Regions from separate parts of the Homo sapiens genome. Here region 1 is linked to region 2. A link means that fine-mapping ties the variant in region 2 to the expression of a gene that starts in the linked region. Tissue or cell type: whole blood. Region 2 holds a variant in brackets; the other region holds the start of a gene. All regions are shown on one strand. Distances are between the middles of the regions.

What was found. PIP is the estimated chance that this variant, and not a neighbour inherited with it, causes the effect.
Region 1: RBM26 starts here. The variant in region 2 is fine-mapped to the expression of RBM26 in whole blood (INTERVAL, PIP above 0.99).

What each region holds. Positions count from the first base shown.
Region 1 is chr13:79,399,274-79,415,621 of GRCh38, reverse strand. RBM26 (RNA binding motif protein 26) reads left to right here and starts at 9,367. Exons shown (of 22, transcript NM_001366735.2): 1 at 9,367-9,918. The coding sequence starts at 9,848. RBM26-AS1 (RBM26 antisense RNA 1) reads right to left here and starts at 9,313. Exons shown (of 7, transcript NR_038991.1): 1 at 9,145-9,313; 2 at 2,715-2,940; 3 at 258-360. RefSeq lists enhancers at 9,082-9,381, 8,711-9,702 and a silencer at 9,612-9,811.
Region 2 is chr13:79,369,074-79,385,421 of GRCh38, reverse strand. It overlaps RBM26 (RNA binding motif protein 26), which reads left to right. Exons shown (of 22, transcript NM_001366735.2): 2 at 6,515-6,633; 3 at 7,907-8,043; 4 at 13,492-13,580; 5 at 14,260-14,477. Among named protein-coding and RNA genes, the nearest start is that of RBM26, 29 kb to the left of the region's middle. The variant T/A (reference allele first, on the strand shown) is at 10,243.

The DNA of each region.
Region 1 (16,348 bases), 30 kb before region 2:
AGTGGCTATGGTATGTGGCAGTGTAGTTTGTTCTACCCCTATGTTTACTATTCATTTGCTATGAAAACAGTTTGTGATGGATGCTGCTTCCACAGCCAGGAATTGGTCCAGCCCGATGCTGTTAAGGGAGTCAACTCTTTCTTCTGGGAAGGAAGGTCAAATCCTGTGTGAGCTTTGGCAGTTACATGAAATGCAGGCTTTGAGCTCATTCCTAAATTCTGGTTTACCTTGTATGGTAGATTATATTATAAACTCACTTATGTTTGCTGCTCCTCCTTGCTCCAGCCTATTTTGAATCAGGCTTGGTCACATGACTTGCTCTGGTCAATGAAATGTGGAAAGAAGTGATGTTGTCCACTTCTGTGAGCAGAAATTGTAGGAGACAATACACGGTTTGTCATAATCTCTTTTGTGTCCACCATTATGACTGACAACATCCCAAACACACAGAGGCTACTCCATCAGCCTGGGACCTGAAGGGAGGAACACGTGGAGTAGAGGTGCAGCTAACCTGTAATGGACATGCAGGGTTTGAGAGAAATGAACCCTTGTTGTTCATTACTGCAGCCAAACCTAGCCTCTTCCTAACTTATGCACTATTGTTTGTGGGTGATGTAGATTGTTTTTTCTCTTTGTTGTCTGGAGGAATGGGATAGTGCAGCTTTAAAACTTTAGAGTGTGTCTCCTAAGGGCATTCATTATGCCTGATGTTTGTTATTGCAATGTTATTGGTTGTTTTCCTGGCTTAGGTTCTGGCCCCCAATAAAAATGGCTTCAAATTTCAAAAGCCCTAATTAAGGTTCTACATCATTACCTTTTTAACAGTTTTGTCCTAAGGCTACTAAGGAACTAAGAACAATATGTAAAGGTGAATTTTCTTCAAAAGATTATCTGTGTCTTCCCACACTTCAATTAATAAGCAAATAAGATTTCTTTTCTGATTTTTTTCCCCCTGATTTTTGGCTTGAAAGACAGAGATACCTCTACAATAAATATTTGTTGAAAAAAAAAGGAATGAAATGAAATGATATGATAGCAGCTTTCTAGGTGGGATCATATGCATATAAGCATGTATATACCTACTTATGAAATCCATGGTGGAAGTTTATGAATCTGCTTTCTCTTGAATAGGTTTTCTTTAAGTATTTATTCTTATAATAACTAACAAATGCCATTTGTAGTGACAGGTGAGTGAACCCAAGGATTCTTGACTCTGAGCTGACAGACTGTCACCTAGGTTACGGGTTTTATTCTCCAATTCATTCATTCAACAAGAGAACCTGCCATGTGCTATCAACTTCTCTAAGCGCAAGAGATACATTTGCAGAAAAGAGGCAAAATCTCTGCTTTCCTGGAACTTCCATTGTAGCCAGTCTGTTAGGCCTTCCCAGAGATCTTTTTGTTTTCTGGGTCTCTCCGCCTTAACAGATTTTTTTTAAAGGTTTTTTATTATGGAAAATTTCAATATGTAAGAGCTGAAAGAATTATAACCATCCCCATCATCCAGTTTCAACCACAATCAACTCATAGCCAATCTTATTTCATTGATACTCTACTCTCTCTCCTTATTCCATTTCAAATCATTTTGATAGCACAAGTATCACATCATATCACTAATATGATTTTTAATAATATTACATACATGTTTTTCCTCTGAGGACACTTACCTGTCCTCATTTGACAGTTTGTATGGGAGACTTTGTGAGTGTCTGCATGTGTGTGCGTATGAACATGCAATATATGTATATATACCTTTTTAATGTTATTACCCACCATAACCACATCCATAAACAGTTCCACAGCACCTATGGAGATGGAGTCATAATTAATCATGGGTATAAACAGTGCCCACTGAAGAGTTGGTGATTGCCTCTCAAAGCTTTTTAGCTAGGTGTGGTGACTCATGCCTGTAATCCCAGCACTTTGAGAGGCCAAAGCAGGCAGATCACTTGAGCTCAAGAGATCAGCCTGGGCAACATGGTGAAACCCCGTCTACCAAAAATACAAAAAGAAAATTAGCCAGGCGTGGGTGGCATGTGCCTGTGGTCCCAGTTACTCAGGAGGCTGAGGTGAGAGGATCACTTGAGCCCAGGAGGCAGAGGTTGTAGTGAGCTGAGATTATGCCACCGCACTCTAGCCTGTGTGACACAGAGAGACTCCATCACACACACATAAAAAACAAAAAACAAAAAAAGCTTTTTGTTTTTTTGAGACAGGGTCTCAGTCTGTTTCCCAGGCTGGAGTGCAGTGGCGTGATCTTGGCTTGCTGCAACCTTCGCCTCCTGTGTTCAAGTGATTCTCCTGCCTCGGCCTTCCAAGTAGCTGGGATTACAGGTGTGTGCCACTGGGCTTGGCTAATTTTTGTATTATAATAGAGACATGGTTTTGCCATGTTGGCCAGGCTGGTCTCAAACTCCTGACCTCAGGTAATCCACCCGTCAGCCTCCCAAAGTGCTGGGATTACAGGCGTGAGCCACTGCGCTCGGCCTTAAAAAAGCTTTTTATGCCAGAAGTGCTCTGGTTCAATTTAGGGGGATATGATAGTATGGTTTTTTTTTTTTTTTTTTTTGAGATGGAGTCTCGCTCTATTGCCCTGTTGCTCAGGCTGGAGTACAGTGGCGCAATCTCGGTTCACTGCAACCTCTGCGTCCTGGGTTCAAGTGATTCTCCTGCCTCAGCCTCCCTTCCAAGTAGCTGGGATTACAGGAACTCACCATCATGTCCAGCTAATTTTTGTATGTTCAGTAGAGATGGGTTTCACCATGTAAGCCAGGCTGGTCTCGAACTCCTGACCTCAAGTGATCTGCCTTCTTCAGCCTCCCAAAGTGCTGGGATTACAGGTGTGAGCCACTGTGCCTTGCCTGGGATACGATACCATGTATGTCTTCTGATCCCAGTTTACAACATCAGTAATTGCTCAAGCGTTTCCTCTTGAATTACCTAAGGATATCACAAAAGTGTTACTTTTCTTTGCAAGTCATCAGTGTCTTAACACAGATAAGAAAACTATATTCCCTTTATTAACATGACCTTGATCTTCTAGGAAAATAAAAACCCTTGAATTATTATATTAGAGTACGATATGCTTCCTGTTTTTATTTTAAAATTCCCAAATTTAATCAGGTTCTTTCTTAAAAGAAGTATGCGTTGGTGTGTTCATATTTTAAATTTATCCTGTCACACCAAAAACCTTTCAATGGCTTCGCATCATTATTTTAAATAAAATCCAGTTCCAAAATCTTAACATGAAATTTTTTTACCTCTAACTTGACTGACAGCCATTCCCTATGTCCCCAATTTGATACCCTCCCACCACTCTGTCCTTAAGATCCTGACTCTTCTTTACCTCAGGAACATCCTACAAGCTATTATGTATGCTGGAATGTTCTTGTTTCGACTTTTACTCATTATTCACTTTTCTTAACCATTTAAATATCATATCCTTAGAGAAACCATGCTTGAGCCTTTACAGTCTAAATTGCTAAAATGGTTCTTAGTTTCCTCTTTCATAATACTTATAATTTTATTATTAACTACGATTTTTAAAATGTACAAAAATAGAATGAATCAGATGATTAAATTTGTGTTATGGTGTTCTCTGGGAAGTGGATGCTGAGATGGGGTTAAAAGTGCAAAAAGTTTACTGGAAAGTAGCACCTGTGAAATGGAAAGGGGGGAAGCAGAATTGGGTGGGAGAGCCATTAGATTACCATGCAGGTCTGACAATACTTCTGCCATCCCAATATCGAGCAGGTCCTTATCCCTTGCTCAGTCTTGAGCTGCGGATGGGCATGGGGGAGAGGGTTTTCCCTGAGAACAGTGTAACTTCAACTTGAAAGCTGAGGTGAACCTAGAAAGAGTTAACAACTGGAAGCTGTCAGGTAACTATCCTCCTTGCAGTTGGGCAGTGAGTCCTTTCTTGAAGGGAGATCTGAGCTGCACACCTCTGTGACTGCTATACACTGTAGGATGTCAATTCAATCCAAATTAATCCATAACTTCAATGATGAAGAATTTTTTGTTTACAAGTTCAACAATCTTGTTCTATGTATTTGGAAACTAAAGGTTCACATTTATTTATTTATTTATTTATTTATTTATTTATTTAGACGTAGTTTCACTCTGTCGCCAAGGCTGGAGTACAGTGGCTCAATCTCGGCTCACCGACAACTCCACTTCCCAGGTTCAAGCGATTCTCCCACCTCAGCCTCTGGGCTGGGTACTACAGGTGTGTGCCAACACACCTGGCTAATTTTTGTATTTTTAGTAGAGATGGGGTTTCACCATGTTGGCCAGGCCGGTCTTGAACTCCTGACCTCAAGTGATCCGCCTGCCTCGGCCTCCCAAAGTGCTGGGGTTATAGGTGTGAGCCACTGTGCCAGACCAAGATTCATATTTAGCCAAGCTAAATTTGAAAAAGAGCAAAGAAGAGGGATTTGCCTTATTATATATTAAGATATTCTATAATACAATAGTAAATAAAAGCAACATAGTACTGGAGTAGTCACAGACAAGCTGACCAATTGAAAAATAGGTCAGAAGCAGAACACAAATGAAATGAAAACAGAAAGATATAAGTGGCATCAAAAATCAAACAGGAAGGAAGCTAGGCACGGTGGCTCACGCCTGTAATCCCAACACTTTAGGAGGCCGAGGCGGGCCGATCACTTGAGGCCAGGAGTTCAAGAATAGCATGGCCAACATGGTGAAACGCCCTCTCTAATTAGATGGGCATGGTGGTGCACACCTATAGTCCCAGCTACTTGGGAGGCTGAGGTAGAACTGCTTGAACCTGGGAGGCAGAGGTTGCAGTGAGCCAAGATTGCGCCACTGCACTCCAGCATTGGAGATGGTGTCAGACTCTGTCCCAGGAAAAAAAAAAAAAAAAAAAGAAAAAAATCAACAGGAAAGAATAAACTGAGTGAGTAGACTTATAGAAAAAAAAAATGGCCTAGATCCTCACTTTACACCACAAACAGGGATGTATTACAGAGAGAATAAATACTTAAGTGTGATTCTAAGTAGAGTAATGGACTGCAAAAGAAATAGAAGAAAATACAGAATCTCTTTTTGATCCGGAAATGCTGACTGTTTTTAAACAAGACTTCAAAAGCACTATTGAGAGTAGTAAGACTGTATTCAACTAGAGGAGAGAGCTGGAAAAACCTGAGGAGGAGTTCAGCACACTATAGAGAATATTCCTGGGATTGGTGCAGCTAAAAGATGAAGGCAACTTATGGTAATAAACCATAAAGAAATACAGATCTGTTAGAGGGCATATCATTCTCTTGCCTATCTAAAATATTTTCTCCTGCCTCTGCTTCCTTCCTATTTAAAACGAAGCATGTGTCTTCAATAAACATTTTTTGAGTTTCAGACACTGAGTTAAGTGCAGGACGTAGAAAGAGGAATAAACTTGAGTCCAGTCCTTAAAAGAGCTCACAAGGCCGAGAAAGATGAGAAAACTAAATAAAATGTTTTATTTTTATCTGTCCTCACAATCTCTTCCCAGTAAATGTTTTAACTCCTGTTCTACAGGTAGGGAGCTAGACCTTTGTCCAGGGTATCATTGAGGTACTGACATTTGAGCAATAAGGAAAATCATTCTGGCAAAAGGAACAGTGCTAATAAAGTCACATGGCCTTGAAAGAACATGGTGTATTGGAAAACGTTAAGCAGGCAACCTGATACTGGACATTCCAAAATGTACATGTTACTGAATAGAGAAAGTAGTCCACAGCAGCTGTTTAGTCTTCTCTTAGTAGAATTGATGATTACATCAGCTAATTGTCGCCTTTGAAGGCAGGGCCAAAGAAGATGAAGCAGGGATAAATGAAGGATAAATGTTAATGGTTAAGGAAGAGAAGCATTCTAGGAAGCAAAAATGACTAACTGTGAAGTGATAATAAGCACTGTACCATAAATTTAGAGGAGGAAGATACTGCTATCAGCCACAGTGGCCAGGAAAGGTTTCATGGAAGTGGTACGGCTTCCTTTGGTCATTCAAAAAATATAGTTAATCCTTATTACTTACAGATTCTGTATTTGTGAGTTTGCCTACTTGCTAAAATTTATTTGCAATGCCCAAATCAATACTTGGAATGCTTTTGCAGTCATCTGTCGACATGAACAGAGGCAAAAAAATTTGAGTCACCTGATGCACATGTTCCCAGCTTTGGTGAAACAAGGGGATGCTCTGCCTTCCTGTTTTAGCTCTCACACTGGAAACAAGTGTCCTTTTCATGGTCTATTTAAGGCCACATTTGTTGCATTTTTGACCTTTTTGTGATTTCACTGTTTAAAATGCCCCCCAAGTGTAGTGATGAGGCTATCTGGGTCCCTAAGTGCCAGAAGGCTCTTCTTTCTTTTTAAAGAGAAAATACATACGCCAGGTAAGCATGAGTTATAGTGCCACTGGCTGTGAGTTCAATGTTAATGAATCAACTATATTAAATAAGGTGCCTTAAAAATTTTTTTTTTTCCTACATAAGGTGCCTTTAAAAAGAAACACACATAAAACAAGGTATTTATGGGCTGGTTGACAAACATTTAATAAGAGGCTTGAAGGAACCTAATCCTGCATTTCTCCTAGGAGCAATGGTTCCATATTCACTAATTCAGCATTTGTGGCTTTTTTACAGAACCACCGTGAATAAGGATTGGCTGTATATATTAGCAGCTGTTCTTGAAGCGGGGGATTCAAAGCTATAATCCACTAAAGAACAGATAATCACATACTTGCAAAAATAAAGCTATGAGTGCTATAAAAGAAGCAATCACAGGCTGATGTCAGAAAATCTCAGAGGGACTCTCGCTTTACAGAAGGGAGGTCAAAGATGGATTTCCAAAGGCGATGCTGTATGCACTGCATTTTGACGCTTAAGTAGGAATCTATCAAATGAAAGGTAGAGAAACACATTTTGCAATGGCTCAATTTAGTGAGAGGACACACTTCTGTGGAGACAAACGTTTACTCCCTCTTGAATGCTAATTTGTCATGTTGCCTTCTGATTAACCCCAGCCCTGTGATTATTACTTTATTTACTGTCCTTAGTTTAACAACAAAGCAACCCTGATGTTATCACACAAATTACAGGCTATGATGCATATAGCATTCTTGCCTGTCTGGAGGGTTGCCTTTAAATGTCTCTATAGAGTACGTACACCCTTTCCTTATGGCATGTAAGTACTGGTCTGGGGAGTAAAAGGGCAGACATCTACCTGTCTTGCTGCCACTGAAGACCATGCTTCTGTCTGTAAGTTACCCCCAACAAAACACTCTTTACTGACCAAACTGGATTTGTCTGCTTTGTTCATTTGATTTCTCCTTTGATGTTTGGGGGGCACTTTGCATAAAGGGCCTTTTCATGGAACAACTTATTTTAAGGAACTCAAAATAGTTTAGGATGGCTGGAGCAAAGACTGAAAGGAGTTTCTAGGCAAAAAGGAAGGTGTCTGATTTATGAAAGTCCCTTTATAGGATGTTAAATAATGTGTTTTATTCTAAAGATAATGTGGAAGTTGAAGATTTTAAGCAAGAAAGTGACATGATTAGATCAAAATTTTAGAATTACTGCTATTAAAGGCAATGATGATGAGGGCAACTGAAGATGAACTGAGATGGAGGTCAGCATAAAAGGCAAAGATATTAAAAGGCTTTTGCTATTATTTAGGAAGAATAAAAGACTTTAAATAAGACAGTGACAGTGGTATGAGAGATGGATGGGCAAAGTTTGAGCAGTCAGGGAAAGAAGTAGAAGCGTTCTCTGTGGAAAATAAAGTGAACAAATGTTTGGAGAAAGGGAGGGTGAGCAAATCAGTTTATCTGGGGTATACAGTATTTGATAGAAGCTTTGGAAGGCTGAAGTGGAGAGCCAGAGTAATGGAGTAGCTGGTGATAAGGTTGAAAATATTGGTGGCGTCAGCCTGTGGCAAGGCTACAACAAACAGACTAAACAAATATAATTTTAACTTTCGGCAGTATTAAATTTATAAACAATTTTTATTGTAAAATACATATAAAACCTACCGTTTTCATTAAGTATATGGTCCACTGCATTAAGTACATTCATATTGTGCAACCCACACAACACCACTCATCTCCAGAATCTAAATCATCCTAAACTGAAACTCTATTATCCACTGAAATATAACTCCTCATTTCCCCTTCTCCTGGGCACCCTCTCCACCCCTGCTCTTGCTACCATTCCACCTTCTGTCTCTAGGAGTTTTGACTACTCTAGGTACTTAATGTAAGTGGAATCATAATATTTGTCCTTTCATGTCTGGTTTATTTCACTCAGCTAAATCACTTTAATCAACACCCTGGTTATTCAGTAGCTGGATTCTAATTTGTATTCTACTCTATATGCTGTATTTTAAAACAAATGTCTTGCTTTGTAGTTCATAATCTTTCCACCTAATCCTTAAAGACACTTCACTCTAGCAAATTATAAACTCAAGAGTTCCTAAGAACAATTTAGCCTATCGGTGTCTCTCATAAAGAGCTTTTATTGATCTACTTACTGAAAATGTCTTTAGATTGTGAATATTTTCATTCCATTACAGTTCATGGAACGTAGACCCTTTGTAAAATTCCACCTAGTATCTAAATAGAACTCAAGCAGGAATCAAACTTATTTGATCACCCAGGAAAATAGTTTATTTATTTGGGTTGCTAATATGAAGACTCTCTCTTTTGATACTATATAATTTCCCGATCTGAGATAGGGCTGAATTTGCTCTAAATAAAGAGAATTTTAAAAATAACAAAACTTATCTTTAGCTGGGGGAAAGTGCAGGCTGGAAACTACCTGAGAGACGTGAAGGTTCTCTCACCTTTCCCTTGTGGGCAGCCCTCAGTCATTAGGGCTCTACCAGCAAGTCAAGTACTGTTGGACAAGACACTAATCCTCTGGCGGTCTCATTGGGCTCCATTAGACCAGCCTGTGTTTACAAACCTCGTTCACATCACAGCATACACAGAATATGATACTGGTAGGGCACTTAGGTAAACTGAGGAGGTAGTGTGCTCGGCACCTGGAACCTACGGGCCGCCTGGTGTCGCGCACGCGGGAGTGTACGCTCTCAAAGAGCGATCCATCCGGCAGGACCGTTCCAGCTGACAGGCCACGGCCGTCTTACCGGGGACGAGCTGGGGTTCCCGCTGTTTCTGAAGTCAGCGGTCTTTTCCTCCTTGTAAGAAATAAGGTCTTTATATCATAAAGGTAAGCAAAGAATAAAAAGGCACAAAGGCCGCAAGCAACGCACACACGCAAAAATCGAACTACAGCACTCGACCCGCGCATTCTCCGCCGACCTTACGTCTCTCCCAGCAGGCTCCGGGAGCCACCGCGAGACTTCATCAATTCTCGCGAGATTTACCGGCAGCCATCTTCTTGGGGGTGCTGGGAGCCGGGAAGACCCCCTGAATCGTTCCCATTGAGCTGCCCTTCGCCTTCGCTTTCTTTACTTTTGCCTTTTCGACGTAGCCAACAAGCACCTGGTCCCGAGGCTGAGAGAAGGCTCGGGTCTAAGCGCGTGTCGCGCTTCCGGTCTGGGTAGATTTGCTGGGGAAGAGGGAAGGGGGAGGGCCCGGGCAAACCGTTGCTGTTTCAGCCCGGGCTGGGGGCCGGGGACGGGGAGCTCCTGGCACCCCGTGCACTTGTGGCCTGCGGCGGTCCTTGCAGAGCTGTTCGCCGACCGGGGCCCGCGGGAACCTGCCACCGGCGCCTCCCACCGCGGCCCACGCGGGCGGCGCGCGGAGGAGGGGGCGGGGGCAGCGGCGGCTGTAGCGGCCGCGACCTGGGCGGGCGGAGGAGTGTGACGGGCCTTAGGGCCGCTGTGGATGGTTTCTAAAATGATCATTGAAAACTTCGAGGCACTCAAGTCCTGGCTCAGCAAGACTCTCGAGCCCATGTGAGTATCCGGGGGATATCTCTTTGCAGGGATGGCAGTGGGAGATAGGCGGACCCAGAGATCTGTGCAGTTTCCCCAAGTGCCTGCGGTGGAGGCCGAAGCGGTGAACGGAGGTCCCAGGGTTCTGTGGCTTCTCCTCCTCGTCCACCTCGCTTCCAGATTCAGGATACCCCCGAGAGCCTGAGTCGAGCTTTATTTTATTGCTGAGCTGCTCTCGTTTTCCCGTTATATATAGACCGTCTCCAACCCCCACCCGCAATATTTTCCGGGGGCCTCAAAATCGGTTTATTTTAGTGAAACCGACTGTATTTTACTTCCTACAGATTATTTTACCTTGTTTTTCTAAATGAAGTAGACGGCCTTTATTGGGGATTCGGGCAGTTCTAGCTTAAATCACTCACGTTTCACCTAAATATAATTCCTGAAAGCAAGGCCACGTCTCCCATGTGCTGTCTGGCTCATCTGCACCTCTCTTCACTGATTGAAGATGTAACAGGTGCTGAGGTGGCCAGTAAAATTCCCCTTTCCCGCCTACGCGTTCGTTAGCTTGGAGAGGAGGAAGAAAATTGAATCTTCATCCATATGGAATATTTAGCAGTTTTAAGTGGGATGCTATAGATAGATTTTGTGTTGGGGGCTGCGGTTAGAGTGCTGAAATAGTCTTAGATTGGAAAATTTAAGGAGTGTTTTGACGACTTGTTAATACAAAATATGACATGGACCAAAGTGCTTAATCAGAATTGGTTGATTTACAATAATGCAATGGGGAAAATTCACGTATTTAATAAAGTTATTAGGTACCTACTGTATACTACGGGAGGCTTTGGGGATAGAGCTTTTAAATTCTAAAATCGACAAGACATAAATAAATCCAGATATTAATAGAGTTGTGACTATTGTAATAATAGAGAATCATGTAAAAGTGATTATGAGGGGGGCTATTTCACATTGGTCAAGGAAGGACTCTCAGAGAAGGTGACATTGGAGTAACATCTAAAGAGAAGGGACCATGTGTGTCAAAGTCTTGGAAAAGAACATTCCTTGCAAAAGGAAGAGCAAATGAAAGGCCCTGTAGCAGAAGTGATTGTGGTGTGTTTCAGGAAGAGAAAGGCCACTGTGGCTGGAAAGAGCCTTGTGATGAGGGAGAGGATATAAAGGCAACAAGTTGGACAAGTAGGTAGGGGCCACATCATGTATGGGAAGACGTGAGATGATTTAAAGCAGACAAGGACTGATTTAATTTTGTTTTAACTCTGCCTATTTTGTAGAGACTGAAAGGGCAAGAATGGAAGTAAGAAGATTATTCAGAAGTGTGTTGTAGGCAGAGATGTGGCTAGTTTGCATTAGAGTGATGGTGGAGACAGGCAGATCCAAATACATTTCATAAGTAAAATTAATGGATTAAATGCGGGAGATGAGGGAAAGGGAAATCAAGGGTGGTGCCTTAGATAACCCAAGCAACAGAATGGGTGATATTAGAGAAGGCAGAGAACAGGTTAAGGGGAGAAGGAAAGTGGATGGCTAGTTTTGATAATAATAAATACAGTAAGTATGAAGTCTGTGGGATACAGCTAAGTGTGATAGCAGATCATTGAATATATGAGTCTAAAACTCAGGACAGGACTGGAGAAATCTGGAGTCATGCAGATAGTATTTAAGACGATGACATTGTGGGAAATTTCATAGAAAAAGTGTGTAGGTAGGGAAGAGAAGAGGGCCTAGTACTGAGGCAGGAGGAAAACTGGGCTTTATGTCATTAAAAAACAAGTGTATGGCAAAAGAGAGGAGTTTATGAAATGCTGCAGAATGCATGAAAAAATGGAGGCAAATAGGTAGCCCTTAGATTTAGCAAAGTGGAAGTCATTGGTAACCTTAGCAAAATAGTTTCACTGGAGTAGAGTTGTGCAGATGGAAGTCCTATTTCGGTGTATTGGAGAGTGGGCATCATAGTATAGCGGTGAGGAGAACTCTGGAGCAGAATGTCTGGCTTTGAATTCTGCCTCTGCCACTTACCAGCTGTATGATATTGGGTAAGTTACTTAACTCAGGGCTTCCATTTCCTCAACTGTAAAATTGGGAAAATAATGGGTGTATATTAAGGAAATCTTAGACTACTGTCTGGTGTGTAATTAGCATTCAGTAGTTATTAGGTGAATACAAAACTTATAAATGTTTTGGATTGAAATAGCTTTCCTTTAAGCGTTCAGTTTCATATTAGATTTACTGCCGTATCCCTCCATCTTACCTAAATGAGAAGACTGTAGCTACTTAGAGTGTATGCTTGTAATTTTTCTTTAGTCTTAATGAAACATATTCCATGTATCATAAAGCCTACTCTCGATGGCTGTAGCACTGCAGTCATTATGTTGTAATAAATAAGGCTCTGCTAGTAGAGCCTAGACACTGGGAATTGTAATTGGTCCTTTTCTAATGTGTGTAGCTGTGGTAAAATTGAGCCCTTATTCAAGTTCTTGTCCTTTTAATTGCATTTCAGGTGGATTCTTTTGTATGATGACTTATAAAAGCTGATCCCAATTATGGATCAGTGGTTTCTAACGTTGGTTTTGTGAAATGTTATGATCTGTTATCTAAAAGGAATTTTTTTTTTTTTTTGCTTTAACATTGTAATTACCAAACGACCTCTGTTTGAGAGAGGAACATACAGAGGACCAAGGGTAAGCTGTAACTTGAAACTTACATAAAACTTTTTAGTTACCTGTGGTGGTTAAATACTTCATGGTTTTGGACTTACTCCACATTTTGAATGTGTTAATTCAGCAAACATTTATTTTAAGAGTACTTAACCTACTCTGTGCTAAGCAGTGTGCAAGATATAGTAGGTAACAAGACATGAAATGACTCACTTCATTTTATTTACCATTTAGCAGGAAAGATAGGTGTTGAAGTCTGGGAACATCAGGAAACACTTCCCTGGTGTAATGTTTATCTCAGCTTGGAAGGATGAAGAATACTTTGCTGGGGCAAAAGGATGGGATTGGAGACCTGTGAAAGCGTTATAGGTTTGGTGAACAGATTGTATGGAGGTCCTAAAAATGGACAAAAAAGATATGTTGGAGGAATTGAAAGAAATAGAAAAAAGCAAAGGAGAAGAATGGCAGTGGAAAGCTCCAGAGATAGGAGCCAGATCACACAGGACTTTGTTGAGTCATGTTTAAGACTTTGGATGTTATTGAAGGATAGTGGGAAGCCAGTGAAGGGTTTTAGGGCAAGAGGGTTTTCAGATGGATGTTTAAAAAAAAAAAAAAAAGCCTGGCTGTGTTTTCAGCGTGAAATAGAAGTCTGCATATCTGTATTTACTGTTTCATAACTTCTGTACATGTATCAGGGTTCTGAGTTTCATAAATTATTGAAAATAATTTTCAATGTCTTTTTCATAAATTGAGAATTTTGAACTTTATTAAAATTGTCATCTTGAAATGCTTAAGATTGATGTTTTGTTATCTCAAAGATTTGCTTAGTCATACTTGCCAATAATATGAAACTAAATGTTAGTCTTTTTTCTAACATTTCGTTTTGATGATGAGAAGTCCTGAAAAAAAAATTAAGCTCCTTTGTTGTAGTAAACTTTTAAACAAACAAAAAAAACAGAAAACACTTTCTACTGTATTTAAAACTTTTAGGTGGACTTACACATCAAAGTCATGTTTTTTTTTTTTTCCTGAAGAGACACCTAAACATCTAATGAAACTTTAATTTTTTAGAAAATAAAATTGAGGGGCAGGTGGATGTAATGACGTACTGAGGTTTTGTGAGTTGAGTAGTAAAGAACAAAATGCCTAGTGTTGTGCTTCTGCCACTGTGTAGTGCTGTGGAGGAAGTGTGTGGTGGAAGGAAGATCTCTGTGTCCAGATCAGTATTCAAATCTCACTTCTGCCATTTATTAGCTGTCTAGGCAAAGAAACCTCCTCTTTCCTTATTGGTATAATAGGAAGAATTACAGTATTTCCATCTATAGTTGAAAGGGTTGAATGGGACACATGTTTGTGAGCCTTGCCCTTCCCCTCCTTTCTTAGATATTGGTTGATTAAACACAGATAGGCTACATTACTACTGTTGCTACTGTTAGAATTATCACCAACACTCCTGCTGTGACTACCACCTAAACTGTATGCATTGTTGTTAAACATTTTGTATTATTGTACTTACAAGTTTTATGAGGTAAGCATTGTTATCTCTCCATTTTGCAGGTGATGATACTGAGGCACTGAAGCATGAAGTTATTTGCCCACAGTGATTTAAACTAAGGCTTTTTGACTCTAGAGCTGTGTGCATATTCTTAATTTACTACTACAGAATGCAGCATCCTAGTGTTTTCTGTTACTGCATATACTTTTTTACTATGACATTTTGATAGTATTGGCTACTATTGTAAAAGAACAAAGTTCTAAAGCATCGTGATTATCAGTGCTTTAGAGTTTAAGAAATAAACATCTTTGTGGTTTTTGTAGTATTTTTCCCCTTCACCTGTACTTGTTACTACACCTTTCTCACCACATTAAAATTTATTTTTGTTCGTGTCTGATAGGAAGAGTTATTCTTTTGGGTTGGCTAAATGATCTTTTTACTCCTGAACTTTTGAGTATTTTTGATTCCTTTGACCTTTCCTTTTCAGTTGGCTTCTTTTGGCATAGTAAGTCCATTTCCCATTCTTTAGGAAAAACTCAGCAATAATAGCAAAAAACAAAACAAAAGATAAAACGCTTCTAGTCACTTTCTTGCTAGCTTTCTGTTCCTGTCGCTGGTAAATCTTGAAGTAGTAGTCAGACTTTTAATTTTTTGTTAATTTGCCCTCAGCCATTTACTTCTTAATGTCTTGGAATAGAATTTCTTCGTTGTAATATAATTACAACCAAAATTACTTACCTCAGTGTTACCAATCAATTTATATTTATTGCCTGAAGTTTTATATTTTTTGCCCTATGCGTGTATAACATCAGTGTTGATGCCACCTTTTTAACTTACTTGCCTTGAATCCCTAATGTGTTGGTTCCTTTTCTTAAGTCAGTCTTACCCTCTTTTGTTCCTTTTCTTCAGATTCTAATTGTATTTTTCAGTGTTGTTACATTGACATTTTTTTCTTCATCCATTTTTTACTTCTGACATTTCATTAATTACTGCTAAGATTTGAATGTTTGTCTTCTCCAGAATTCATGTTGAAATTTAATTTCGTTAAGTATTAAGAGGTGATTAGGTCACGAGGGCTCTGCCTTTGTTGATTGGATTAATGCCTTTATAAAAGGTTAGGTTTTGCCTCTGCCCCTCTGACTTCTGCTATGGGAGACCTCTGACTTCTGCCATGGGAGGAACTCCGGAGGATGCAGTGTTCAAGGTCTATCTTGGAATCAGAATTGCCAAACCTGCCAGTACCTTGATATGAGACTTCCCAGCCTCCAGAACTGTGAGCCAATAAATTTCTTTATAAATTACCCATCTTGTGGTATTCTGTTATAGCAGCACAAACGGACTAAGACCTTTCCCATGAATGGTTTTCTTTGTAATACATGCCAGTGGTTCTTAAAAACTTTTTTTGGAGTGTATATTGTAGATCCTTTAAAGTCTGATTAAAGACTGTCTCCCTAGGATTTACAAATACATACACATTTGCATTGAATTTCAGAGCTTTTCACTCTGAGCTTGTTAATGGATTCCAAACTAGAACCTCTACTCTGCATTTATTTTCACATAAGTATGTTTAGACTTAACCACTCTTCACAGTCTTAAGCTTTTATCTCTAATTGCTGGCTGTATATCTGCTTGGATCGCTCATCTAAACTTCAAACTAATTTCTGAAAAGAAGTGTTTTCTGGATTCACTTATTTTAATTTCATTTCTCCAAATTATGCTGGCTTGAAATTTTTTGGCTTCTCCTTCCTCCCATTCACTTAGTCATGAGGTTCTCTCTTAATAATCCTTACTGACATTGCTTAGTAGGGGGCTCACACTCCGTATCTAAATGATTGCAGTTTGCTTCCTAACAAATCTGTTTTTATCTCTAGGCCTTTCTCCCTTCCAGTTCTTCTGACATGGATGCCCAGCCTTGTTTGTATCCCATTGCTTGATCAAAACCTTCAGCATTCCCAGATAATAAATTGCATACTTTTTAGCTTGCCTTTAAGAAAGCTAATGATTTGCTTTAAATTATCTTTTCCATTTATATCTTTCTACTTTTTATATGAGTCTTAATTTCAGCAAAGCTGAACTTTCGTGATTCACTGTCATTTTTTTTTATTGTTTCTTTTTTCTGAAACTTTACTGTTTCTTTTTTCTGAAGATTAGTAGTGGGCACCATTTATTGAGTGCTTACTATTAATATATGTTAATTGTTATACATTCATTGTGTGCAAGATAGGTGTTAGGAAGATGAATTAGCATACTTTATTCATAGCTAGTAAGTGATGGAGACAGGATC
Region 2 (16,348 bases):
TAATAGATTGTGTGATGCTCAAGGATGGATCATATTTAGATATGCTTATATTTTGATTTTATTTTGTAGAATGAACTGGGTGTATAATAACTCTTAATGAGTAGTCTTTGCTGTAACTAATTACTGTATATAAGTAATCTATTTTTGCTTTCTTGTTTGAATTAAGTGAAGCATGTAATAAACTACAATTAAAATTTTCAATGTATGTATTATGCTTGCTGCAATGAAATTTGGATTTTTAAAAGAGTAATTCTAAGTACAGAATATAAAATCATGACTTTGATGCAAATTAGATATTTTTCCTGAATATAAAATGAAAATTTGGAAAGAACAGACGTGGGTGCATATCCGTGTTCTAAAGTTACTCAGTTAACATATTTAAATTTAATTTTTAATTCCCACTACCACCTCCAGCTTCTTTTCAAGATTACTGAACATGGAAGCTTGGGTTAAATTCCGTGAGTTATATTCTACTGAATTTCTAAAGTCTCCAAGAAACTCGTGCAAAACAAACTTTTTGAAATATTGTATTGGAGTATTATAGCTTTCTTTACGGTCTCATTACTGTTTTGAAAATCTGAAAAACTAAAACACACTATGGGTGTGTTGGGGGATTAGTACAACCTTTATTTCCAGAGGTGATTTGTTTCTTGTTAAGAATATTTAGTTTTTAAAGATATTTTATTATAACATTTGATTTTCTGTATTAATTTGGCTTCTGTAACTTTAGTGTGTGTACTTCCCTCTCCACCCCAGATATAGTTGGAAGAGAATGACCTTCTTAGATGGTCACTTCTATGCTTTTAAAGGGTATGCATGAAGCTGGAAGTCTCCAACTGAACTGTTTTTAAAAACAAAGATGCCAGCTGGGCACTATTGCTCTCACCTGTAAATCCCAACACTTTGGGAGGCCGAGGAAGAAGGATCACTTGAGGCCAGGAGTTCGAAACCAGCCTGGTCAACAGAGCAAGACCCTATTTGTACACCCAAACAAAAATTAGCCAGGTGTAGTTGTGTGCACCTGTAGTCCTAGCTACTGGGGAGGCAGCGGTGGGAGGATCTCTTGGCAGGAGTTCAAGGTTTCAATGAACCATGATTGCACCACCGCCCTCCAGCCTGGGTAACAGCAAGACTTTGTCTCTAAAAAAATGAAATGAAAAGAAAAAAAAAAAAAAAACTTTATTAGCTGTATCCTTAACACAGTATATTCAGGAATTGACAAAGTTTTATTTTTATGCCTTTAAAATCATTGATGTGAATGACTTCATAGTGATTTGGAAATTTAATTTGCCAAAGCTCACTGAAGCAGTTAATTTGAAATCCTTGGAGAATTAAAATTGGAAACCCCAGTGTTCGTGAATGCTCACTTTGCTCCATTTCACTGGACTCCTGTCCCTCATATGTGTCAAGAAGGTCAAGTAGGCCTTAGGCTCTTTCTGATGGGTTCCCTTGGCCTGGGCTTTTTAAAATTTTTTCTTTTCCGGATAGCCATAAAGCATATTTGCATTCCATTTCCATTCCTATCTAAATTCAGATCCCTGTTTAAATGTCCCTTCAACAGAGTCCTTCCTTGATGATCTTAAATAATACTTGTTTTATCTTTTCTGTTTTCTTTCTCCTTACCTTTCTTCCTTTCTCCTCCTTTACACTTTATCTTTTCAACCTGGATTTTTCCTCAGAGCACGTGTCTACATGACAATACATACTATAAACGTATGTTTGTGTAATATGCATATTGGTTCCCCCCACCCCCCAATGTAAATTCCGTGGCAACAGTGATGTTTCTAAAAGTTGTATTTTCAGGATCTAGAACAGTGACAGAGTAGGTGCTTTTAAAATTTTCTTGAATAATGAATGCGATATTTGGACGATAATCACTAAACCCAACATACTTATTTTCTTATTTTATTCATCAAACTTTATATGAAGATGAAAGATTCCCTGACAGAAATGAGCCATTGATCTAGTGAGACATATATTTGTATGTATATTCTCTCTCTTAGTAACTATTAATATGTTTCAGATCTTTTGTAGTGTGTATTTTATCTACAGTGTAATTTTTAAAAAATGCTTTTCTATTACTAATATATGTAGATCAGTAATTGAACAGACTAATGTGTTATTTTATATTTCATATATTTGCACAGTATCTTATGAACAGATTTAAACCTAATGATTTTACTCATTGATACTTGTGTGGGATTTACTATCCAGTCCAGTGCTTATTTGCCAAGAGCTGTTCAGCCTATGCTTGAAACCATTCTAATGAAGGAGAACCCTCAGGCAGTTTATTCTGCCTTTGGGAGGCCTCTGATTATTTTAAAAAAAAAAAGCCTATCTCTATTTTAAGCCAAAACCTGTTTGGCTGCTTCTGCTTACTGGCTTTAGTTACATTCCTTGGAGGATATATTGGACAAATGTAATCCTTTTTCCTTGTGATAACTTTTCAATTATTTGAAGACTTACCAAGTTCTCTCTGACATTTCAGTTCTCTAGGCTGAGAATCCCTAGAAAACCATCTAATAATGATATCCATTTACCATCTTGGTCATTTTCTAAGAATCTGTTTGAGTTTGTTTATGCATTTATAAAGGTGGAACCTAGAACTGAAAGCACTAACACTCTACTGCATAGGAGAGCAGCACTCTTTCCTGTCTAGTTCTCAGTTTTCTGTTTTATTGCATGTTTATAATTTATGTTTCCCCCCCAGCCATTTCACACTTTCATTTCCTTTAACTTAACCGTTTACTAAAGTGCTTAAGTTTTCACCTTCTATTTGCCTTCTACAAATGCTATTGTTGAGTTAGATCTCATGCCTTATTTTGTAGTTTTTGCTTTTGTTTGTATTCTGCTCCCTCACCAGCCCCAACACACACACAGAAGAGTAATTGCAGTTGGAGCACTTGGTGATCATAATCATACTTTATTGGCAGATTTTGTTGTTTGTGGGAGCTAAGAAATACTTTTCAAAACTTGATTCTTTTTTTCCCCGATCTATAAGGCAATTTCAGGTCTGCTTTTTCTTTCACACATTTTCAGGATGCTAGCAGTATATAGCAGGGGTAAAGAAAAGTCTAGCTCTGACAAGATATAGATCATTCAAATTACAAACCTTTTATCAGCAGTGGCAACTGGTAAAGTACCTCGAACAATCTTGCTAGCCATGGAGATAATTTTTAAAAATAATTTGCTATATGAATATAGTTTTTTTAATTAGTTAATTTGAATGTTTATTTAATTGACTTTGCATAACATCATCACTAGAAGTTCAGATAATATAACATTTAAGACAAATAGAAAAGAGAACATAGGTTTTGCCTTTCTGTTCCTGATACATAACATTTCAGTATATTATTAAATTTCTGTGGTCCATATTTTTTACTCAGCTTTTTGTTTTCAAAAATATTGAAGTAAAAATGGAACTTCTTGTAGGACTTAAGAAAAATTGTTTCCCAAATGCAAATTCAGTTGTTTTGCCATTAAATGTGAAATTATAACCCCTGCTTCTATATAATTTGAACTTTTAACAAATGTTAAAAAGTCATCTGCCTTTCAAATTATTTCAAGGATTTAGAACTGTATATGGTAGTATATTTGTTGTGGCTAATCGTTTTTTATTCAGTTCAGATTGCTTCTACAGAAGATGTTGAGCAGAGATTCTTCTTTAATTCTGTCTTGCTGTTTTATCCAACTGTGGTTTATAGACCATAATAATTATAAAAATCATGAAAGCCTTCCTCTAGATTTTTAGCTGCTAACATTTTAATTCAGTTTTAAAATGTCCTATTTAAAAAATAATGGTGCAAAAATGAAATAGATTTGGTATTTCGTTGAGAGAATTGAAAAATGACAGGTAAGTTACTGGAAAAACCACTAATAAGTTAAAAATTCACCACAACAATCAAACCAATATTAAATTACAGCATTTAGACTCAGTGTAGACTGAATTTATATACAGCAGTTGCAATAAAACATAATAATATTATTATGTATCATAATGATTTCCAGTAAATTGAAATATGTTTAGCTTGATGTCTAGTTTGGTTGATGTCTGGTTGATTTGGTTGATAGGGAGTGACTGTAACTCTAGGTGTTTAAAAAGTAAATTGGAAGTCAGGTTTCTGGCACCTCGTTGTAAGAGGCAGTCTAGTGTGGTGGTTAAGAATGTGGACTTTGGAGTATGAGATTTAGTTTTAAATCTTGATTCATTTCCTTGCTGTGTAGTCTTGGGAAGTCTACTTAGCTTTTCTCTGAACCTCAGTTTCTTTATCAGTAAAGTGAGAGCCCAATATAGTATGTAAAATTAGAAGTGCAGTTCATGGCACAAACTAGGTGTTGAGTAAGTGTTAGTAATTGTTGAGTAAGTGTTAGTAATTAACTACTGCTATTATTTTATTGTTAGTTACTCTAACTTGTAAAATCTTAATAATTTTAGCTTAGTTATAAACAATTATATCATTCTTTTGAATTGGATGAAAATAGTTCAGACATCAAAAATTTCCCGTCCTGACATTGTTAATTGAAATAAACCAGGCACAGAAAGATTAATGCTGTATGTTACCACTCATATATGGGAGCTAAATAAGTTGGTCTCATATAAGTAGAAAGTAGAATAGTGGTTACCAAATGCTGGGAAGGGTGGTAGGGAGATAGGGAGAGGTTGGTTAACAGATACAAAATTACGCTGGATTGGATGAGTAAGTTCTAGTGTTGTTTAACACTGTAGGGTAACTACAGTTAATTTATTATATATTTTCAGATAGCTAGAAGAGAAGATTTTGAATGTTCCCAACACAAAGAAATAAATGTTTTAGGTGATAGATAGGCTAATTACCCTGGTTGTTCATTACACATTGCATACAGGTATCAAAATATCACATTGTACTCTATGAATACATACAATTATTATGTGGTTTTTTTTTTTTAAAAACTTTCCCTTCTTACCCTGTCCCTCCTTTACTTAGTTCATACTATCATCCTGTCCAGATAGCCGTAGTTTATTTATCCTTCCACATATATATAAACCAGATTTCTCTCTTCTCCCCCAACACAAATGGCAAATACTATACAAACCTTTTCTTTGTCTTGCATTTTAAATTTAATGAATTGATATGAAGATTTCTTTAGGGGTTGAAAACTTCATTACCTGTCTTTTTATCTTTTTGCTACATGTCATTCTTTTGTGTGGATTTTAATACAGTTTATTTTTCCAGTTCTCTCTAAATGGACATGTGCACATTTTTGATTTTACAATCAATATGACAATGAATAACTTGTACACATGTCATTTTGAACACGTGAGTATATGTGTAGAATAAATTCGTAGATGTAAATTGCATTTGTGACCTTGATACTACCAGAGTATTCTATCAGCTACCAGTTTACTCACACCAGCTCATGTTTAGAATTGCGTTTTCATTAGTCTTGCCACCAGAATACATTTTCATATTTATTGGATTTTGCCAACCTGATAACTGAAAAATATTTCAGTGTAACTTAAATTTGTATTTCTCTTATGGGTGAGGTTGAATTTTTACTCATTTAAGAGTCATTTTTATTTATTTTATGTTTTAGCATCTATTCATATCCTTTGTCTTTTTTTCTCTTATAATGTTAGTCTCGGTAAAAACACTGTGGGTTAGGGGAATTAGCCTTTTTGTGATGAGATAAACTGAGCTTGTTTTTCATTGGTTGACTCTTCATTCTGAGTTTTTTTTTTTGTTCTGTTTTTTATAATCACATTACTTTTTTGATAATATGGATTTTGTGTCTTCCTTACTCCAGGGTTAAATAAATTGTGTTTTCCTCTGACATGTTTCCAAGTTTATTTTGTAAAAGGCAACTGCCAAGTTGTCTCAATACATTTTCTTTTTTTTTTGAGATAGGGTTCTTACTTTGTCACCCAGACTGGAATGCAGTGACGTGATCCCAAATCACTGCAGCTTTGAACTTCTGGGCTCAGATGATTCTTCTCCCTCAGCCTCCCGAGTAGCTGGGACTACAGGCACACACTACCATGCCTAATTTTTTTTTTTTTTTTTTTTTTTTTTGGTAGAGACTGGGTTTCGCCATTTTGCCCAGACTGGTCTTGAACTCCTGGGCTCAAGCGATCTGCCCGCCTAGGTCTCCCAAGGTGCTGTCATTACAGGACTGATTCACTGTGCCTGGCCTCAATACTGTTTATTGCATAATTTATCTCTTCTTAGTTGGTTTGGATGCCACTTTTATAAAATCTGAATTCCTAGTACATTTGGATCCATTTCTAGACTTTCTTTTTTTGCTGTTTAAACTAATATACTGATGGGTATGTTTTTAAGAAATAAAATGGCTACACATAGCATTAAGGAGTGTTAGTATAAAGAGAACTTAAATTTCTTCAAGGTCCTCTGTGACCCGGGTGCTTTTTACATGTATTAACTCACTTAACTATTATTCTCACTAATTCAGTTTGTAACTGGAATTTGTAGAATGTGCAGTTGGCTAAATTTTCTTCAACATTGGTTTTTTTCTTTAGCTGTGATGCAGATCCATCCGCCCTAGCAAAATATGTTCTGGCTTTGGTAAAGAAAGACAAAAGTGAAAAAGAGTTAAAGGCATTATGTATTGATCAGCTGGATGTATTTCTTCAGAAAGGTAAGATCTTTGGTTTAAAAATACTACTATATTTTAAAAAGTTATTTAAGGCTTGGCATGGTGGCTCACGCCTGTAATCCTAGCACTTTGGGAGGCTGAGGTGGGTGGATCACCTGAGGTCAGGAGTTCAAGACCAGCCGGGCAAACATGGTGAAACCCTGTCTCTACATAAAATATAAAAATTAGCCGGGCATGATGGTGGGTGCCTGTAATCCCGGCTACTCGGGAGGCTGAGGCAGGAGAATTGCTTGAACCTGGGAGGCAGAGGTTGCTGTGAGCTGAGATCGCGCTACTGCACTCCAGCCTGGGCGACAAAGTGAGACTCATCTCAAAAAAAATAAATAAAGTTATTTAAAATAAGTTTATCCACAGAATATTAAAGGAACTCGGTAAGAAGCCCTAATTTTAACAAAGTTAAATAAACAATATTATTATTGAGTATATCCATAGCTTATTTAAAATGGATGCCACCTCTCAGTAATGTCCATGTGCTTATTCTTAAAGCATGTTGATATTTTTTCTTACATAGATTAAAAGATTAAGAAAATGACTGCCTATTTATTTAAAGCCAGTACTGCTTAGGAAACTGCTTTGAATCTTACCTAGCGCATTGCTTTTCAGCTTTTTGTACCTTGCCACATCTAGATTATGATAGTGTTTGTGTTTGCAACACTGAGTAGGCGATGTGGAGAAGACTTAGTCATGGCTGGAGGTGACTAGCCCAGAGGGCTGCGACCATTCCAGTCCCTACCGTCTTGAAAATAGCATGAATCAGTATTGCCTCAGGACTTGTGCCATGGCACACTGGTTGGGAAGCTGTTGATATTAGGATATTTTCTTTCTTTTTACTTTTTTTTTTTTGAGACGGAGTCTTGCTCTGTCACCCAGGCGGGAGTGCAATGGCGTGATCTTGAGTGCAGTGGCGCGATCTCGGCTCACTGCAGTCTCTGCCTCCTGGGTTCAAGTGATTCTCCTGCCTCAGCCTCCCTAGTATCTGGAATTACAGGCACCTGCCATCATGCCTGGCTAATTTTTGTGGAGACAGGGCTGGCGAGGCTGGTTTTGAACTCCTGACCTCAGGTGATCCACCTGCCTTGGCCTCCCAAAGTGCTGGGATTACAGACGTAAGCCACCACGCCTGGCCAGTGCTAGTATATTTTCTAGTTTATAAAAGTCAAGGTATGTTTCATCATATTAGAGATAAGAGATGTGGAAGCGGGGAATTAATCTTAACAAATGTGTTTTAATCTATGGTGTTTGGTTTTATTTTTAGAGACACAGATATTTGTGGAAAAACTTTTTGATGCTGTGAATACAAAGAGTTACCTACCTCCTCCAGAGCAGCCATCATCAGGAAGCCTGAAGGTAGAATTTTTTCCACACCAAGAAAAAGATATAAAGAAGGAAGAGGTAACGATTTGTGTTAATACCTTACAGGTTATTTAAACACATAAGAGGAATAACCAAACTGAGTTTTTATCTTCTATATCTTTGTGTTGGAGTCCTCAGGACCACTCCCAGTTTAAATGATTTTTCTAGGAGGACTCATAGGACTCTGCATATAATTGTGCTTATGGCCCTGGCTTATTTCAGCAAAAGGATATAAAGCAAAGTCAGCAAATGGAAAAGGTGTATGAGGCCAAGTCCAGTGGAAAACAAGCACAAGCTTACAAAGTCCTCAGAGTTGCACAGGATGTGCTTAATTCCCCTAGCAGTGAACTGTAACAACACATGGGAATTAGGCAAGCTCCTTAGAAACTCTGCCCTGCGTTCTTATTTGGAACTGGTCACATAGGCACCGCCTACCTAGTATGTACCAAAATTCCAGACTCCTGGGAGGAAGGCAGATGTTCAGTGTAGACCATATTGTTTCATAACTAATTCAGGCATAGTGAACCATTCCTTATCAGGGGGTAATGGGAACCCTCGAGAAATCAAAGTGCCCAGGAGCCAGCCTTACAAGCATGCTGGCTTTCTAAGGTTAGTATTGTCAGGCCTGCTTTTACTCTGCACAATATCTTACAGACATAGAGTCTTAATATCTGTTCTATGAAAATAATTAGGTTGACAATTGGTCTGTTTGCTTTTGTCATACATGTATTTAGTAGGGGACTGTTTTTAAGGTAGTAAAACACAAGGACCTTCACAAGACAGTGGATATGACTTCATACTTCAAGAGGTCCCAAAATTTTTGTGTGTATTTTACAACCTTCTCTCTTCACCCTTAGTTACTAGTCATATAATAATTTATATCTTTTCAATTTGATGTTAAAAGATTATAATTTGGCCAGGGTGAGCGTGGTGGCTCATGCCTGTAATCCCAGCACTCTGGGAGGCTGAGGCAGGAGGCTCACTTGAGCCCAGGAGTTTGAGACCAGTCTGGGTTATATAGTGAGACCTCATCTCTTATGAAAAAAATTTTAAAATTAGCCAGGTGTGATGGGGTGGTGCATGCTTGTAGTCCCAACTACTTGAGGGGCTGAGGTGGGAGAACTGCTTGAGCCCCAGAGCCTGAGGGTGCAGATCAAAGCATTACACTGCAGCCTAGGCAACTGAGCAAGACCCTGTCTGGAAAAAAAAAACAAACAAACTATAATTTTAGTGAAAATAATTGTTGGCAGTCAAGCCATTATGTTTCTGCATTTAGCCCTAGCTTTAGGTCACACATATCTTGGTTAAAATTTTGGTTCTACAAATCACTGGTTTGTGACCTTGAAAACATTACTTTTCTGAGCCTCATTTTACTCAGCTGCGAAATGGAAATATTAAAGGTTCTTGTGAGGAATAAGTAAAATAATGTATATAAAGCACCAATCAAGTGCTTTATATACATTATTTTACTTTTCACATGTGGCACATGGTAGGTTCTCAGTAAATGGTAGCTGCTGTCATTTTTGAGATTGTAAGAGATGTTGATGTTGTGACCTTTTTTTCTCCTTTTATGCTTTTTCCAGATTACATATAAATAATACATTTTATTATGCAATAAAATATATATTATAATATGTAATCTCAAATATATTTATATCTCTATCTGAATATATTTACACACATGTATATTTGTATATTTTCATATACACATACCCACATGTAACATCCCAATCAGTTTTATCTGCCTGGGAAGACCAGAAATGTAATTTATAACTGAACCTATTTCATACCTAACAGTATAAGGGTTCTGTTAGGAAGAAAGGGACGGTGTATATTGTGTTGGCAATTGCTTATGCAACATAGAGATATGCAATGGTTTATTCAAGTTTTGCCTACTGGTGGAACTTTGGTTTGGTTTCAGATTTTTGCTGTGAAAAATTATACTTTGGCTGGGCACTGTGGCTCTCGCCTGTAATTCCAGCACTTTGGGAGGCTGAGGCGGGTGGATCACCTTAGGTCAGGAGTTCAAGACCAGCTTGGCCAATATGGTGAAACCCTGTCGCTACTAAAAACAAAAATTAGCCAGGCATGGTGGCAGGTGCCTGTAATCCCAGTTACTCGAGAAGCTGAGACAGGAGAATCGCTTGAACCTGGGAGGCAGAGGTTGTAGTGAGCTGAGACCATGCCATTGCACTCCAGCCTGTGTGACAAGAGCTAAACTCCGTCTCAAAAAAAAAA[T/A]ATATATATATAATATATATAAATATGAATAATATATATTATTTATTTTTAAAATATAAATATATATTTATATGATATATATAAATATATATTTATATATATCATATAAATATATAAAAATATAAATATATAGTATATAAAAAATGTATAAAATATATATAATATATATATTATATGTATGCTTTAATTCTCAGAAAATCTTGAGTAAATCACAGTCCCTTGGCTTGAGTAGTCTTCCCCTAAATCGAGTTAGTAGCAAAGCCTTAGTCTTATTATCTATTGATGTAATAATACTTCCTGTTTTTTCAACCAATTGTGGGAGATACTTATCCCTGATCTTTCAGAATTGTTGAAATGCCAGATGGCAATCTACGTTTAAAATGCTGTGGCTATACTAAAAGTTTGCAGATGGGCATGTACTGTGGAATATGGTGATCTGTTAGATAACTCGCAAAAGTGCATTGAGGAAATAGAAGGGAAAGAGTGCATCAGAAGGGTCGTATTAGTACCCGGTTTTTTGTCTGGTCTGGGAGGAGAGCTGGAATAGGTGGAAAGAGTACGAAAGTACTTGAATTTAAAAAGGCAAACTGTTGAAAGAATGCTTTAAAGATTATTTCTCCTAGTTTGGTCTGTTAATAGGATTTCCATTTGATTTCTCATCTAAAGTGGCACACTTTTTTTTGTTTGTTTTTTGAGACGGAGTCTTAGTCTATTGCCCAGGCTGGAGTGTCGTGGCCCCATAGTGGCTCACTGCAACCTCTGCCTCCTGGGTTCAAGCAATTCTCCTCTCTCAGCCTCCCAAGTATCCCTCCTGTAATCCCCTTTTGGGATTACAGGCGCGTGCCACCATGCCCAGCTAATTTTTGTATTTTTAGTAGAGATGATATTTCAGCGTGTTGGCCAGGCTGGTCTTAAACTGCTGACCTCAAGTGATCCACCCACCTCTGCCTTTAAAAGTGCTGGGATTATAGGTGTGAGCCACTGTGCCCAGCATAAAGTGGTACATTCTGACAGTCAGAAGCCCTTATCAAAAGGATGCTGGAACAGCTGGCATAAACTGGGACATGTGTACCCTGTGCGTAGACTACCTGCATGAGAATATCTTATGGTTCTCAGTAACACAAAATCTTGAGCCCTATCTTATTTATAGAAGCCACTTGCACGATATTTCCTGAATTTGTTCAACCTCTAAGTCCCTTTTTCTAATTACCTAGAAAAACAGTGATTCCTGTCGTTCCTGTTGTTGAGGACCATTATTCTCAACAATATAGTCTGGAGAAAGTAGCACTGAGAATATTTTCCAAGGTTGCTTTCTAGTAGCTATATAATGTGAATGGAGGCACCTTGTAGGAAACAGAAATATATAGCTGTCATGCTGCTGTGAGAAACTGGAGAACTATTTCACCTTATATATTGTTTTCCCAGATATATATATATAAAATATTATATATTATTATATATAGTAATATATATATATAAAATATTATATATTATTATATATAGTAATATATAATATATAAATATATAAATAGACTATATAAATATATATAGTAATATATAATATATAAATATACTATATAAATATATATAGTAATATATAAATATATTATATAAATATATATAGTAATATATAAATATATTATATAAATATATATAGTAATATATATAAATAAGTATATTTATACATATTATATATATTTGTATATTTATACATATTATATATATTTATATATAATATATAATATATATTTATATTTTATTTATATATAGTATATAATATATATTATATATATTTATATATAATATATATTATATATTTATATATTTTATTTATATATAATATATATTTTATATTTATATATATTTATTTATATTTTTATATATTTATATATAAATATATAAATACATTAGAACTCACCAAGTCATAAATACATACACACATAAACATATACATATTTATATATATTTATATATTTTTATATATTTTATATATTTATATAAAAATTTATATAAATATATAATACATAAAATATATAATATATAAGATATATCTTATATATTATATAAAATATGTAATATATAAGATATATCTTATATATTATATAAAATATGTAATATATAAGATATATCTTATATATTATATAAAATATGTAATATATAAGATATATCTTATATATTATATAAAATATGTAATATATAAGATATATCTTATATATTATATAAAATATGTAATATATAAGATATATCTTATATATTATATAAAATATGTAATATATAAGATATATTTTATATAGCATATAAAATATTATAAATATATTTATATTTATATAATATATAATATATTTATATAAAATATTTATTATAAATATATATCATATAATTATAATATATATCATATAATTATATATAATATAAAATATATAATAAATTACAATATGATACATAAATATATATAATATGTAAATATATATTTATATATATAAACATGTATATGTTTGTGTGTGTGTATGTATTTATGACTTGGTGAGTTCTAATGTATTCTCCTATATTCCTTGATGTGTTTGGTACCACACCAAGTCCACGAAACCAAAACATGAATATATGTTAGACTTTTGAAAGAGGAATAAAATTGGATTTCCATTAATTATGTTAAATGAGCATACTTGCTTAAAATGTTTTCTCACCAATGTAATCATTTCATTATAGTTAAATGATTATACTTAGTAGAGAAATTTACTTTGTTTGGATAATTTTAGAAGATGACAATTTTGCTTCTACGTTATATAAACTAATTTTAATGTTAATTAAATTTTATTTAATGTTAATTAAATGTTAATGTTAATAAAGTCATTAAAGCAGTAATGTGTCTAAGGCTTTTTTTTGTTTGTTTGTTTGTTTTGAGGCAGAGCCTCACTCTGTCGCCCAGGCTGGAGTGTGCACTGGCGCGATCTCAGCTCACTGCAACCTCTGCCTGCCAGGTTCAAGCGATTCTCTTTCCTCAGCCTCCAGAGTAGCTGGGATTACAGGCCCCTGCCACTGTGCCCAGCTAATCTTTGTATTTTTAGTAGAGACAGGGTTTCACCATGTTGGCCAGGCTGGTGTCGAACTTCCGACTTCGTGAACCACCCGCCTCAGCCTCCCAAAGTGCTGGCATTACAGGCATGAACCACTGTGCCCAGCCCTATCTAAGGCTATTTAACAGTGGAATAATTACTAAACTTGTACACTTTTTTTTTTTTTTTTAATCAGATCACTAAGGAGGAAGAGCGAGAGAAGAAGTTTTCTAGAAGGCTAAATCACAGTCCTCCCCAGTCAAGCTCCCGATACAGGGAAAATAGGTGAGCAGTTCATTGAACCATACTCAGTGTTTCGATGTAAGTTATCTTTTATACAAATGTTTAGACTTGGGTTATCTTTTACGCAGAGGCAAGTAATATCTACTCTTTTATTGGTCTAGGAAAATATAACTAGGTCCGTTTCTACCATGAAAATCTAGGTCAGATTTGTAGATCTTGGGAGTGAGTTTAGAACAGTGCTTGACATATATTAGCTGCTTATCTTTTTATTCCTAACTTCAGATTCCAGTAGAATCTTAATGTGTGGGTGTTTTTTTTTTGCCTGCTGTTTCCATTTAGTGTGATTAAATTGTTTTTCTCATTCAGGCTTCAAAAGCACTTAGAATACAATGCATGTGATACATGTCTGTAAGTGAGATTATATGTACGGGATAGTATGTTCTATATGTACTCTAAGTCTTATATACAGATGCCTTTATCTACAGATGCCTAATTGTATAGTTGCCAATGTGTAATAAGACTAAGGGTTAAGGCTTTAAAAAGATTGTTTTTCATTTAAAAGGGATTTAAAGTACTGAATATTAAGCTCAGTTTTTTCAGTTGTCTGATGGTAGGATAGAAAGTTAAGTTACAAGAATTAAATGTAACTTTTGCATTTAATTAGCTTTTTCCTGTGTCACTTAAAAATTATTTGTATTAAAGTGATCACATATTTCTTTAGAAGCCGTGATGAGAGGAAAAAAGATGATCGTTCTCGCAAAAGAGATTATGATCGAAACCCTCCTCGAAGAGATTCATACAGAGACCGGTACAATAGAAGACGAGGGCGGAGTCGCAGTTATAGCAGGAGTCGAAGTCGAAGTTGGAGTAAAGAGAGGCTTCGTGAGAGGGACAGAGATAGAAGCAGGACTAGAAGCAGAAGCAGAACACGAAGCAGGGGTAAATAATATATTTTGGTTATCTTTTTATGAAAAACTCCATGTTTAAATGTTTTTAAAAATTGCTTAACATTTTGTCAGTGTTGTCTTCATTTTTTTCTATTATGATGTATTCTGTGGTCCAAGAGAATGCTTTTTAAAAATTCCTTTAAAAGTTTTATTCCTTGCAAATTAAAATCACAGTTACCACTACACATTCAACAGGATAGCCACGATGATACAGACTGATTCTATTCCATGTTGGTGAGAAAGTAGATAAGCTGAAACTCTTTGGAAAACATTTTGGCAGTATGTAAAAATATTAAAACTACACTTAGCATATGGGTCCGCTATTCTACTTCTTACTGTTTACCTGGAAGAAATGAAAGTGTATGTCCACACAGGTGTTTGTTCACAAAGGTTCATAGCAGACTTATTTGTAAGAGCCAGATCTAGAAACAGCCTAAATGTCCATCAAGAGGTGAATGTATAAACATGTTGTGGTATATCCATACCATAACATGGATAAAAAGAAAAGAACTATTGATACATGCAACAAAATGGATGAATCTCAGTATAATTATGCTGAGTGAAAGAAGCAGGACAATACATATGTATGTTAAAAAATTTTTTTTCTTAATCTTTGTTTTTGTGACAGAGTATTGCTCTGTCGCCCAGGCTGGAGTGCAGTGGTGCTGTTTCAGCTCATTGCAACCTCCGCCTCCTGAGTTCAAGCGATGATCATGCCTCAGCCTCCCAAGTAGCTGGGATTACAGGCAAGTGCCACCATGCTCGGCTAATTTTTGTATTTTTGGTAGAGTCACGTTGGGGGTTTCACCAGGTTGGCCAGACTGGTCTCGAATTCCTGACCTCAGGTGATCCACCCGCCTCAGCCTCCCAAAGTGCTGGGATTATAGGCCTGAGCCACTGTGCCCAGACTAGTTTTTAAAAATGCAAACTAATCTGTGATGACAGAGAGCAAAGCCAGTCGTTGCCTGAAATGGAGTAAAGGAGGGATGATAGATTACAGATTACAAAGGGGCATGAGGATTCTTTTGGAAGTGATGAATATGTACATCATTTATTTGTGGTATTGGTTTCAGAGGTGTTATATCTTGATTAAAACTTATACAGTTTAAATATGTTCAGTTTATTATATATCAGTTATACTTCAAAACTATTTTTAAAAGTTTAAAAAGTTTTATTTCAGATATATATTTTTGCAAGAGCGTGTCATTCCCAACATGTATAATTTTCTTCTAGTACATGTTATTGAAAGTAAGATGTTGTCGTAAAACACCTAAAACACTTTTCAGTAAAGCACCTTTTCTCAAACTTTTTTTGCTACTCTTAATACTATTTATGGCCTTTGTATAAGCCCTGTATTCTGTTACTCTTTTCTTAGAAATTTTCCCCTGCTGTGATCTAGGTATACAAGGCTTCATGGAATGTTACTTCACTTAACTAATCTCTTTAATTTCTTTTCTGTTTCCTGAGGACCATATGTATAGTCTAGTTAATTTCTTTGTGCATGTTTAATATGAACTCTTTCTGGGTCATCCGTTCTTATCTTAATATAACAGCCATTGTAGTAACTTTAAATGGATGACTACAAAATGTTCATCACAGGAAAAATAACCATACTTTATTGCATGTTTTGTTTTGTGGTCTGTAATTATGCATACCAAGATTGTGATGAAGAAAATATAAAATTCCTTTTTTCTATAAACAAAACTCTAAGGAAAAACATTAAATATGGCAGCATTACCTGGTTTTGTAGTTTGGGTTATATTAAAAAGAAATCGCTTACCTTTTAACATTGTATATTAATTGAATATTTTTTAAAAGAAAATGATTATTATGCAAAATTTAAAATTTTTTTTCTATGTTTAT